Regions from separate parts of the Homo sapiens genome. Here region 1 is linked to region 2. A link means that fine-mapping ties the variant in region 2 to the expression of a gene that starts in the linked region. Tissue or cell type: whole blood. Region 2 holds a variant in brackets; the other region holds the start of a gene. All regions are shown on one strand. Distances are between the middles of the regions.

The links. PIP is the estimated chance that this variant, and not a neighbour inherited with it, causes the effect.
Region 1: it holds the start of PRCP, and the variant in region 2 is fine-mapped to the expression of PRCP in whole blood (INTERVAL, PIP above 0.99).

What each region holds. Positions count from the first base shown.
Region 1 is chr11:82,896,847-82,903,161 of GRCh38, reverse strand. PRCP (prolylcarboxypeptidase) reads left to right here and starts at 2,732. Exons shown (of 9, transcript NM_005040.4): 1 at 2,732-2,927. The coding sequence starts at 2,760. DDIAS (DNA damage induced apoptosis suppressor) reads right to left here and starts at 1,426. Exons shown (of 6, transcript NM_145018.4): 1 at 1,340-1,426. It overlaps LOC124902602, which reads left to right and starts at 1,107. Exons shown (of 2, transcript XM_047427953.1): 1 at 1,107-1,114; 2 at 1,481-2,248. The coding sequence starts at 1,107. The coding sequence ends at 2,138. RefSeq lists silencers at 1,797-1,886, 1,937-1,986 and enhancers at 2,197-2,246, 2,527-2,626, 2,777-2,836, 2,957-3,006.
Region 2 is chr11:83,068,057-83,073,712 of GRCh38, reverse strand. RAB30 (RAB30, member RAS oncogene family) reads left to right here and starts at 1,816. Exons shown (of 5, transcript NM_001286060.2): 1 at 1,816-2,022. It overlaps RAB30-DT (RAB30 divergent transcript), which reads right to left and starts at 1,647. Exons shown (of 3, transcript NR_038903.1): 1 at 1,567-1,647; 2 at 909-1,090; 3 at 1-410. It overlaps LINC02951 (long intergenic non-protein coding RNA 2951), which reads left to right. Exons shown (of 3, transcript NR_186233.1): 3 at 1,017-1,311. RefSeq lists enhancers at 1,374-1,863, 3,627-3,856, 3,877-3,926. The variant G/A (reference allele first, on the strand shown) is at 2,927.

The DNA of each region.
Region 1 (6,315 bases), 170 kb after region 2:
GTCCTTTCTAAATATATTCCAGCTATACTGGTCTTTCCTTAGATTCTTGAACATTAACATGTCAAGCTCTTTCCTGCCTCAGGACGTTTGCACAACCTGTTCACTCTGTTTAGAATGTTTTTCTTTCCCTCTTTTGCATGGTTGGATCACGCTCATCTTTTAGGCATCAGTATCAACTCCTTGGAAAGGTCTTCTTAGACCAGTCTAATTCACATAGTTTCCTTGTAAATTCTCCTTAATTCCATCCATAAAAGGTAAGTTCCATTAGAACAGGAATCTACCTTGTTCATCATTGGATCTCAGTACCTAGCAATTCTTGGCACAGACGAAAGAAGCATTTAACTATCTGCAGAATAAACAAATAATTACTTGGTGCTCTGTGATCCAGTCCTGTGGGGTCAGGAAAGGGTTTCTGATTTAAAAGGCTTTGCAAACTGACTAAGAATTAGCCAGGTCAGGGACAGGGTCAGAAGACGGTTTGGGGTGAGAAGGAGGATAGTGCACTTCAGGAACACAAAAGACATTCTATATGGCTGGAGCGGTGGAAAACCACTAGGGCTGAAGAGCCAGGCAAAAGTCAGATAGGAAAGAGTCTGTAAGTCATGTTAAAGAGTTTGGGCTTAAACCTGAGGGCAAATAGGAGCGACTGAAAGGTTTTCAATGGGGAGTGCCTCGGTCAAATATGAACTTTATCAGCCCAGCAATGTGGAGACTGGACTGGAAGGTAGCAAGATTGAAAGCAGGAGAACCAGCTGGGGCGGCGGGGGAGGGGGGGGTTACTGTCACAGCTATGTAGCAGTCATAGGGTCGAACCAAAATAATGTCAGTAAAAAACGGAGAGAAGTGAACAGATCTGAGATATTCAAGAGGCTGGTAGGGACTGGCTGGATGTGAAAAGGAAGAAAACTTTCAAGCTCTGGTTTAAGCACATGGCTCAGTTAAAATATGTTCCTTCTAAGCCATCATAGCATTTTGGAAGATCCCCTTTCAGCACGTACTACTCTGCACAGTGGCCCACTGAATACGTATTTGCACATTACAGAAGCAAGAGTCGCGCCTTTTCCTCTCTATTTCCGATTCTAAAAGCTCACTCCGAGTCTAGCTCGATGGCACTGTAAGTGTTCAATAAACGTTCGTTAGGTGATTGCAAAAGCACTGAGTCTAAAATAAAATAACTGACGTTTATATTCTGTTACCCTCATGGCTGCCCGTTTACAGAGAACCACTTGTGAAAAAACAAGCGCCGGGCTCTGGGTGGGTCTCATTCATAATGAAGTTAAGAGCCTCCTTAGGAGTCTCCGGCTCTTCGGCTTCCCGAGAACCCCTTTACCCAGCTCACCTGGGGGAGAAGACCAGGAACGGGCCCAGGCGACGCACAGTGACTCGGACCGGCCGAACTCAGTAGCACGCCGGCAGCCTTCCAATCGAATCTCCCGCGTCCTTTTCCGCCGGAAGTAACGCTTTGGCTCTGATTACTCAGAGCCAATCAGAAGAAGGCGCCGCAGAGGGTGGAGCTTAGCGAGGAAATCCTACAAGCATCTGGAAACGACCATTTTCGTCAAACTGCGGGTAGAGTCTTTCTCCCCGACAGGTGGATCAGTAGTACAGTCCGTAAAATTGGTTTTGGAGCTTCGCTGAGCCTCCTGGGCGTAGGGTTCCCGGGAAAGTGTGGAGTGAGCCGCAGCGCCCTGGGGTCTGGCGGGGTGACTGAAAGAGGGAATGGAAGCTGGATGAAGAGGGTTGAGGGAGCTTTGGAAGCCAGACCCGGCGCTGTCCTAGGGGCTAGCACTACCCACGGGCGGAGGGAGGAAGGGGGCGGTGGCAGGAGGCAGGAGGGGGGTGGAGCGCGGAGTGGGTTTTCGGGTGCCGGAGAAGAAAGGGGGCGTTATTTGAAAGAAGGGACCGGGACCTGGCGGGATTTAGGGGCGATGTGGACCCGGGGCGACCTGTGTAATGGATGGGTTGTGCGAGCAACACAGTTTTGGGGTGACCCAAGAACGGAGTATCATAGGGAGTGGTTAGGCTCCAGATGGAGGTGGGTGCAAGGAGCACAGTCTTTGGACCTGGACCCAGCGGTCTGCGACGACGTGCTCCGCTCACTGCTGAGTGATCTAGTGCAAGTTCCCGCACCTCTCTGAGCCTCAGTTTCCACATCTGTAGATGGGAATAACAATCATATACGACGCACAAGATTGCTGTGACGATTTAGTTAGAGGAGATGATGCGTGTGCCTCCCTGCCTCGTGATACACTGGCCTGTAGTGAACCTTCAATAAATTGTCATGGTAGCTGTTATTGCCGTTACGTAGGATTTGCGGAAGGCAGGAGGTGTCGCAATGGAATTGCGGTGGCCAGGGCAGGGTTTGGTGGTGATGATAATGGTAGGGATATTGGGTGACCTGAAGGACAGGTGGGCTTCGGGGGCGCTATAGATAAAGCATGGGCTACAGCGATGAGTTAGGAAGAGGCCCTAGCATGATAAGGGCAGACTTGGGGTGTGACCGCAATGAAGGTGAGTGCTAAGGAGCAGATGGCACGAGAGGAAAGTGGAGTGGAGGCGGTGTCCTCGGGGATGGGGGCGGAGTGGCTGTGGTGACCTGGCTTGGGCGGCGTCTCTGAGGAGCTGGCTGGCTTTGGGTTTCCCCTGGGAGGAGCTGTTTTGCGGCGGGCGGAGCTGCAGGCTGGGCAGGGCTTAGCCTGTGCGCTTCTGCTGGCCTCCTTTTCGCCCTCCCACCCGCACTGCAGTCTCCAGCCTGAGCCATGGGCCGCCGAGCCCTCCTGCTCCTGCTTCTGTCTTTTCTGGCGCCCTGGGCCACCATAGCCCTCCGGCCGGCCTTAAGGGCCCTCGGCAGCCTACACTTGCCAACCAACCCCACATCCCTCCCGGCTGTAGCCAAGAACTATTCGGTTCTCTACTTCCAACAGAAGGTAAGGGGGAGCGGGGGCTTCGCCGTCCCAGGCCCAACCGCCGGGAACCCTGACCCTCAGAGCCCGGGCAACGGAGCCTACCTCGAAATTCACACCCCTTGATGCCTAGGATCTGTTCGGTTTTTGGCTAACATCTTCCAGAAGGTGGTCCCAAATCCCAGTTCTGTTTAAATTTTCTCCTCCCATTACCAATAATTTGGTAGTAGTTTTGGCTGCATACTCTTGATTCAGGCTTTTCTGTAATTGGACACGACAGTCACTTCAACTCCCTCTGCTCCCAGAGGGTGCCCCAATCCGAACTCCCTTGACCTTCCCTCAAATTCAAATTATTAAATGCCAGCTCTGGTACCTAGTCTGCGGTGATAGTCATCCTTTGCCCCAAGGCAGCCCTAAATACAAATTTTAATATCTTTACCTATTAGAAAATATTGGATAGTTATCCATCCTAAAAGCCAGCCTCTCAGAAGGGGTCAGCTCAGAGCTGATTTTGTAGCCCTATTATTAAGAATTGTTGACAGTCCCTATTCCCCATAAGACTGAATGTATGTAGCCTATGCTTGTAAAAGGAGTTGTAGGAGTTTGTGGTGGGGGTGGGGATTAGCCTTTCTATGGTCTGTAACGTGAAATTAGAGGTTTTTGGGCTTGATGCCTTTGTGCTTGGCTGCAGCATGAGGCATTCCCCCACAGGTCTTGATGGAAAAGTACATCCTCTGTGAAATGACAAGTAATCCTTACAGTTCAGCATTTCTGAAAGCCTGTGTAAAAATAGGAAAAGATTTGGAAAAGGTTGGGATTAGAAAGAGTGCAAGGGTCTGAAGCTTGGCTTTAGGAGTCAGATAGAACCGGATTCCACCCTGCTAGCTCTGTGACCTTGGGCAGGTTACAGTACTTCTGTGAGCCTAGTTCCTTGATCTCTTGGGGTTTGTGGTGATGGTTGAATGAGAGCAGATAACGTACTCTTAGCAGAGTATCTGGCTTCAAGTAGGCACTCATATAATATGTGGTTATAGACCTATGTGAAATTTTGTTGTTGTTAATTGTGCAGAGACAAGGCTCACTATGTTGCCCAGGCTAGTCTTGAACTTGTGGGCTCAATAATCCTTCTGCATCAGCCTCCCAAAGTGTTGGGATTACAGGTGTGAGCCACTGAGCCCAGCCCTTATGTGAATTTGGAATGGGAATTTGTGGTAGAGGGATGTCATAGACTTCCAGAATAACTTAGAAATAATTTAAAAATTTTTTTATTTTTAAAAATAGAGATGGGATTTTGTCATCTTGCCTAGGCTGGTCTTGAACTCCTGGGCTCAAGCGATGCCCCTGTCTTGGCCTCCCAAAGGGCTGGGATTGCAGGCGTGTGCCACTGTGTCCCCAGCCAAGAAACAATTTTTAACCCAGACATTTGAGTTCAAGTTTATGAGGAAGAGAAAACATTTTAATTTTAGCAGGGGTACTAGGAAATAATCTTTTTTCTCAGGCAACTCCCTTAAATTAATTCTCTAGGGCATAATTCCCTCATTTGTAAATTAGGAGGGTTGGGACAAGGACCAATGTGTTTTACACTTTACTGAGGAAAATTAAGGGCTCTTTGGGGAGCTGTTTCAGAGGGAAAGTGGATGAAGGCTGAAGTGGAGGCCAAATTAGGTGCTCTAGTACCCTCTCTTGGATCTCTTTCAGCTTTTACCTGTTTTATATGCTGGGATTTTATATACAACTATTTGCAGAACTCAACTGCTAAAGTAAAACGGTGGGGAGGACTATTGGATTGGGAGATCTCTAAAATCCCATTGGGATTGATGAAAAAGAGAACTATCAGCAGAAAAGAGGAAGGGAACAAATGAGTTGTTAGTACCTTAGTTCCTAATTTATGTTCCTTTATTGTAGATTCTTTTCTTGGCCACTACACTCCTTAGAAATATAATTCAACACTGTTTCTTTTTCCATTTTTGATGATATGCAAAGTCCAGCTTTACTCAGCCACATTTTGTCCACTGGCTTATATTTAATTTATATTTTAGGATACAGATTCCACGTATGTATTTATTACCATAATAATAATTTTTCTTCTGTCTATTCCAATTGAGTTTTATTTCATTTTCTGAGGAAAACTTTTACATATGTATTTATTGCATAATTATAATTATACTAGTTGCCAATTTCTGAACCATTGATTTTTAGTTAGGACTATGTGTGAACTCAACTTTAAGTTTTTAAGTTAGAGCACATGAAATACTTTGATGCCTTCTAGTAATAAACTTATTATTAAAACTGTAAGGCTTAGTTTTTTATTCAAGGTTTAATTTTTATTAAACTTTATAATGATTTACCTGTGGTTATATCTGCCCCAGTGACCAAGCTGGACCCAGCTGTCCTTCTATGTATATAAAGGATGTGGTTTTATGGAGTGGTCTCTAAGAAGGCTTAGCCCATGGTCTTATCCCTCCCCTGCTTAGAAATTCTTCATAACTCTGATTGCAGGATAAAGGCCAAACACCTTGGCATGGGAATCCATTGTTCCTTACTATGTAACCCTAGCTGGTCGTTCCAACTTTATATTCTGCCATAATTCCCCATCCCAGCTCCCACTTTTAGCAACCTAACAGACTCAAGTGACTTTTACTGTGTCAGAAATTCTGTCTGGAATACCATCCCTCTTCCCCACTATTTAAACTCATAATTCTATTCCAGCAGAAATGTCTCACCTCTTCTGCGAATCTTTGACTTCTTTAAGGAAATTTAGTTGGTCTTTTTTCATCCTGCACATTTACTATATTGTATGTGTCCCTCCAGCTCGTTAGTACTCTACAATACCTAGAAGAGCCTATAAAAAAGTATAAAGCACAAAATAAATAGTTGTTGAAAGAGTGAATGCATGATTATTCAAAAAGAACCTAAACAAAGCAAAGGCTACCATCATTTAATTGTCACAAATCATTTTTTATTTTTCTTTTTATCTTTTACTTTAATTCTTTACTAATTATTTTTTCCTCCTTTTTCAAGGTCTTCAAATATTGAGTTAGGTAGGACTATTTGATTTCTTTTACCTGAAATAACTGAATTAGGAGACCAGAGAGAGGATAGTACATCACTTGGGCACATCGAGGCTCTGGGTACATGTGTAGTATGTGTGGTATCAGTGTCATAAAGGGCTCTCTGGAATATGTGGCTTGTGGTTACAATGTTGCATGCTTATTACCTTGTACCTCCCACCTGAGCCCCTCAGGCTAGAATGTGAGTCCCAAATCACACATTTTAGTGTGTGATGTAGTGAAGAGGGAGAATGGGTCCTGTCAGGCCATCATTTTTCTCAGTGGTAAAATTGGGAGCAATATCTATTGTATTAGGGTGTGTGTCTGTGTGTTTCTCTCTCTATGAGAGAGATTTTTATTAA
Region 2 (5,656 bases):
GCCTTTTTCATTGTTGTATTCATGGATGACACCAACACATACTACTTCTGCTTAAAAATCAAACTCATTCATCTTGACTTGTTCCCAGAAACATGACACAGAAGATCATTTTTTGAAAAAGTATTTTTGTAATTACCATCTGCATACACCTGAGAGACTGTTTCTAACATGTTTTGGTCATTTTTAATCATTCTATCTGCCTTTCTTTGTTATAAGGATCTATTTTTAATTTTATTCACTCCTAACATAGAGGGGAAGTGCATACCTTCAATGACGCAAAGTAACTAGTTAATGTTGTTTCAGAATAATATGCAAAAGGGAAGGGAGGAAACAGCACAAAGTATATCATATTTTTACACATCAGACACCTTCAGGAAGAAAGGACATTTCTCATCTTAGTGTGACAGACTCTGAAAAAGAACACACAGCACTGTTTCAGTGACACAAGAAAAAAAGTACAGTTCATTTTGAGATACTGTGCAAAATCACTCAAAAGACAATTAACTTTGGTTTCAGTCACTTAGTTAAAAAAAAAATTTATCCATGACCGATGTTACTCTGGAATCTATTGCCAGACGTCAGAAGGCCTATCATCAATAATATCCCACCCCTCCCGCCTTTTCTGAGACACGGGCTTGCTGTCGCCCAGGCTGGAGCACAGTGGTAGGATCGAGGCTCACTGCAGCCTCAACATCCCGGGCTCAAGCGATCCTCCCACCTCAGCCTCTAGTGTAGCTGCAACTACAGGGGTACACCACCATGCCCAGCTAATTTTTTTGTTTAATGTTTTTGTAGAGACGGTACGGGGTCTCCGCATGTTGCCCAGGCTGGGGTTGAACTCCTAGAATCACGCTATCTCCCCGCGTCTGCCCCCAAAGTGCTGGGATTAAAGGCGTGAGCGACCGCACCTGGCCAATATCCCCTTTGAACATCTGCTTTCGCTGGTTGGTAAAAAAGTGTCATTTTAAATTTAGTGTTACTCCTTCAGGCTATTCCCTCTCTCTTCTTACTTGCAGGGCCAAAGCAACGTCTCTTTCCACCTTGGTCACCTTCCAACAACGATTTCTTCGGACGCCTTTGTTAATCATTCCTGTATGAAAAATCAGTGAATCTGAAGCTTTGGGGAGAGTGAAAGGGGGTTGGAAAACAAACGGCAAAACAAAAATGCATTTCGGAGGACTACCCCAACTCTGTGGGTGGAAGTGGGCTTCTCCGAATAAAGGCGAGGGTCGCCGCCTCGGGTCCTCGCACCTCAACAAAAGACACCAACTCTCTCAACTGTACTGTTAACAGATCTAAATGATACTCCAAGCCCAAAAGTAAACCGACTCTCTCAATCTCTTAGCTAAAAAATGGAGAAGGAAGCGTAGGGCCCCATGCAACCCCTTCAGGAGCTGAGACCGAGGCTCACTGGGCCTCTGGATGCCGCTTCCAGTCGGTCCCGCCCTACATCAGTCCCCAGCATGGCCTCCACCCTCTGGTTCCCAGGTTCGTGCCCGCGGCTATCCGACCAGATCGTCCTCCACCTCACCGTCCCCACTGAACCACCACTTGACTCCTGCGCACCCCTAAAACCTCTGCCCGGCTCCGCGGAATCGTCCCAGTACTCCTAACATGGCGGCCGAGTCCCCTTTGCTCCTTCACTCTGGGCGCGTCCCACTTGGAGCATTTTGGGCATTGTAGTTTCGGGGATTGCCTGGGTATCCCTTCAGGACGTAAGAAGACTACAGTTCCCAGAAAGCACCGCTCCCGAGCATGGCTATTGGGGACGTTTGGACAGAGGGATGATGTCATTGCAAAAGCCCCACTGCATTCATTGTGCTACGGTCTCTCCACCCCCTGCTGCTGCTGGGCTTGCGATTGCCGCTCGCTCCAGCTGAGCTAAGTGTAGCAGCAGCACCAGGGCAGGGACTGACTCCAGCCCTTGGACTCAGGACATCGCAGACCTTCCCTTGCGTGCGTGACTCATTCGCACATCCATTTCTGTTTATGCCTGGGGTGGGGAGAAAAATCCCAAACCAGGTGAGTTGAAGTGATTTATTCAAATGCTTCTACCAAGTTATTCCTCCCGCTTAGTTCTCAAGGCTTTCTTTTGGGAAGCTGTGAGCGGTGGGGAGGTGGGGGGGATTGGGGAGAGGCTTGCAGGCACAGCTAAGGGGAAAAGCTCTGTGCCATTTGGGTCACTGCAAAGAACAACTCCAGCAACCTTCCCCCGCCAGAGGACGGGTGCCTGCCAATTCCCTAGTCGCAACTCCTCTCAACCTTTTTGAGGCGGAGAGAGGGGGCTGGGCTGGGAAGGATGTTGGGGAGTGCTCTTGGAAAATCTGAGGAAGGCAGAGGTGGGGGACTGCAGTCCTGTCACACACGGCCCGAGAGCTGAGGTTTGAGTGGGAAGGGGTGATGCGTGGGGAGAAATGGAGACAGTGAATTAATGTGGTCGCACTACTTTAGAACATTTGAATGTCGCTTGGACGAGCACTAGTTATTAATTTTTAAGATGAACGTGCTTAAGTTTTGTAGGGCTTTATTTTATGTGTGTATGTCTATGTGGTTTGTCTCGCCTTTTCTGCTGATTTGAGGTGACAGTGTCCTTTAATGGTGCACTCCGTGCCAGTCAGAAACATTTCACGTGTCTGGCGAAGGTTCTTTCAGGCTGCTGGAAGCAGCGTTTTTGTTAAATGTTTTCCGTTCTCCGACTGCTGGATTCAAGATTGTTTGGAAGTGGAGCCGACAGATTTGTGCTTGTGTGTTTTAAATTACATTGCATAGGCTCTTTGCCACTGACAATGGTACCATAATGAGCTGCTGTTTCCTGAGGCATAGTCACTACTCACAAATAACGGTTTGAAGAGATCGATTAGGGAAGAGGGGTTCATTTTAACACATTAGAGAAAGGGAAAGTTAGAAGCGCTGTTAACCTTCATTT[G/A]CCATTACTGAAAGGTGCCCATGGAAGAGTGATTTTGGTTGTTTTGTTATTGTTGTTTTTTTAAACGAACTGACATTTAACAGGAGAGAAAGCATTCTGACTTACATGATGCTCTTGTAAGAGTTATAGGGATAATTAGGGCAATAGATATGTTACTTTGAGATAAACAGCTGGCTGGCTCCACAACAGATGGGGCCAGTCTTGGCTGAGAGATCTACACCCTTGGAAATGAATGGGCCTGGGGTCAACCACACCCCCTCTTGGAATGTCAAAAGAAGGAGAAATGCCAGAGTATTTGCTTAACTCTAGAATGCTAAACCTTTTCCTAGCTGAGTCAGACATGGGCGAAATTCTTTACTGGCTGTCTTCTGCTGCTAAGCCAATTTTGTTCATTTTAAATTCAGATCCTTAGGTCTCCAAAGTTGTAGCTGTGTGATATTTCATTAAATGCTGCTTGATGCTGAATGCAAAGGACAGTCCATTGTATGGGCTTTGTAGTAGAGTGATTTATTGGGATGCCAATGAGCAGCTTTTGGATTTGGGAAAAGATCAACAGTTAGCCTTTGCCTCTGCGTCTCTCTGTTGATGACGCTCTGCTCTTCTGGACACCCTACCCTTCTCTCCTGTACTTTCATTTCTTCCCCCCACCCCACCCCATCCCACCCACATCTCTTGAAATTCTGTTTATTTCTCTATCTCTCCATTTGCAGTTTACATTTTTCCTTTCTGTTTCAAAACCCCTCCTTTATCACCAGCATATCACATCTCTTTCTCTTCAATCTTAGAACACACTCCCTGGTCCTCCACTTCAACTAGGAACTCCTGGGTGGATGTAGACTATGTGAATATTTTTGCAGAATCCTCTTTGAAGAGAATTTCTTTGCCTTTTCTTTTTCTTGCAGTCTGTGCTTGGCAGGATGAGCAGCAATGAGCCTGACCCCTGGTCTGGTTTGTAGTTCCTGTGACAGACATAATTTAGCCCCAGCAGCATGTGAACAATGAAATGCTGCAGTTGGGCTCATGCCACTTTTCCTTTCACTGGCACCTGCCTATGGATTAGCAAGGTTTTTAAATGCTCTACATGAAATGTTCTCATAATTCCCAAGGAATAAGTAGTCTTCAAGTGGCTTGCCTTATACAATACATTTTTTTTTTCCTTATCCTTGCTGCAGCTGGTGGTGGGAAGGCTGATCTTTCCCCCCTCTTTCTTCCTGTTCCCTGTGGATTGCTGAGTAGCAATCCAGGTGGCCAAACTGCCCATTTGGTTTTTTGAAGATACTTGGAGGACAACAGTTCCCCACCCACCCTGGTTGTTTCTTCTCCTCTGTGCAGGAAAGAAGTTTGTTATTTTATTCTCTTCTCTTAACGGGAAGAGTGTGATAGTGGCTATATTTGTTTATGTAACAGCAGTGCTCCTCTAGGTGTGGAAAGTCTAACTGCTATCCATCTGGAGGCAACTAGTGTAACAGGCAGATTCAGAAGCTGTCCTCTTAGACCTTTTATGCACCATCTTCTCATTCCTAATTTTCTTCTTCTGAAATACTTCCTTACCCACCAAAGTTTCTTTTATTGTCCTAGGGAGGAGAAATGGGCTGAATGTAGTGTTAGATTTGGCCTCATCACTGCTGTCTCTGGGACCTTAAATAACTATTCATTTCTTTCTGCTTCGGTTTACTTATTTGCAAAGGGATAATGATCCTTGCTCTTTGGTTTACTGATGTTATAGCCCTCTATAATCTGGCCCCAACCTATAATTCTGACAATTTATATTGATTGAGCAGCTACCATGTACTAAGCACTGTGGATACATCAGTGAAAACAAATGCTTTCCCTGACTTCATGGAGCTTATATTCTAATAGGGGATATACTTAATAAATAATTGCAAGTGTGATGAATGCCATTTCCAAAAGGGTTGGGTAGGAGTGCCTGACATGGTACTTTCCCCTTGTCTAGGGTTATCAGGAAAGGTTTCCTATAGGAAGTGACACTTCAAGAGACTTGGAGGGTAAACGGAAGTAGTAATTCAGGATGGCAGTGGGAGATGCTTATAGTGGGACAAAGGTTTCTGGCAGAGGGAACTTCATGTTCAAAGTTCAAAGGGAAGAGTGGTGAACCTGAGGATTTGAAAGGAAGTTAGAGACAGAGCAAGAGGAGAAAGACTAGAATGAAGAATGAGGCTGGAGAGGTGGGCAGAGGCTAGAGAGTAGGCAGTTCTTTGAGCTACAGGTGTATTTTGGTCTTTATCCTAAGGCTAATGAGAACCTAGCCTGGCTTTAAAAAACTAGATGAATGGCATATGTAGGATGATATTAAAATATTATCCTGGCTGTTAAGTAGAGGAGATTGAAGGAAAGACTTGGTCAGAGTGAATGTGTAGAGACCAAGTAGCAAATAATTTTTGTCGTCTGTATGAGGGATGATGGTGCTTAGATCTAGGGTGGTGACAGAGGGTTTAGAGAGACACTAAGTTTTTTGTTTTTTTTTTTTGAGACAGAGTTTTGCTCTTGTTGCCCTTGCTGGAGTACAATGGCGCAATCTCGGCTCATTGCAACCTCCGCCTCCCAGGTTCAAGCAGTTCTCCTGCCTCAGCCTCCCTATTGTCTGGGATTACAGGTGCCCGCCACCATGCTCAGCTAACGTTTGTATTTTTTTTTTTTTTTTTGAGACAGAGTCTCACTCTGTCGCCCAGGCTGAAGTGCAGTGGCATGATCACAGCTCACTGCAGCCTC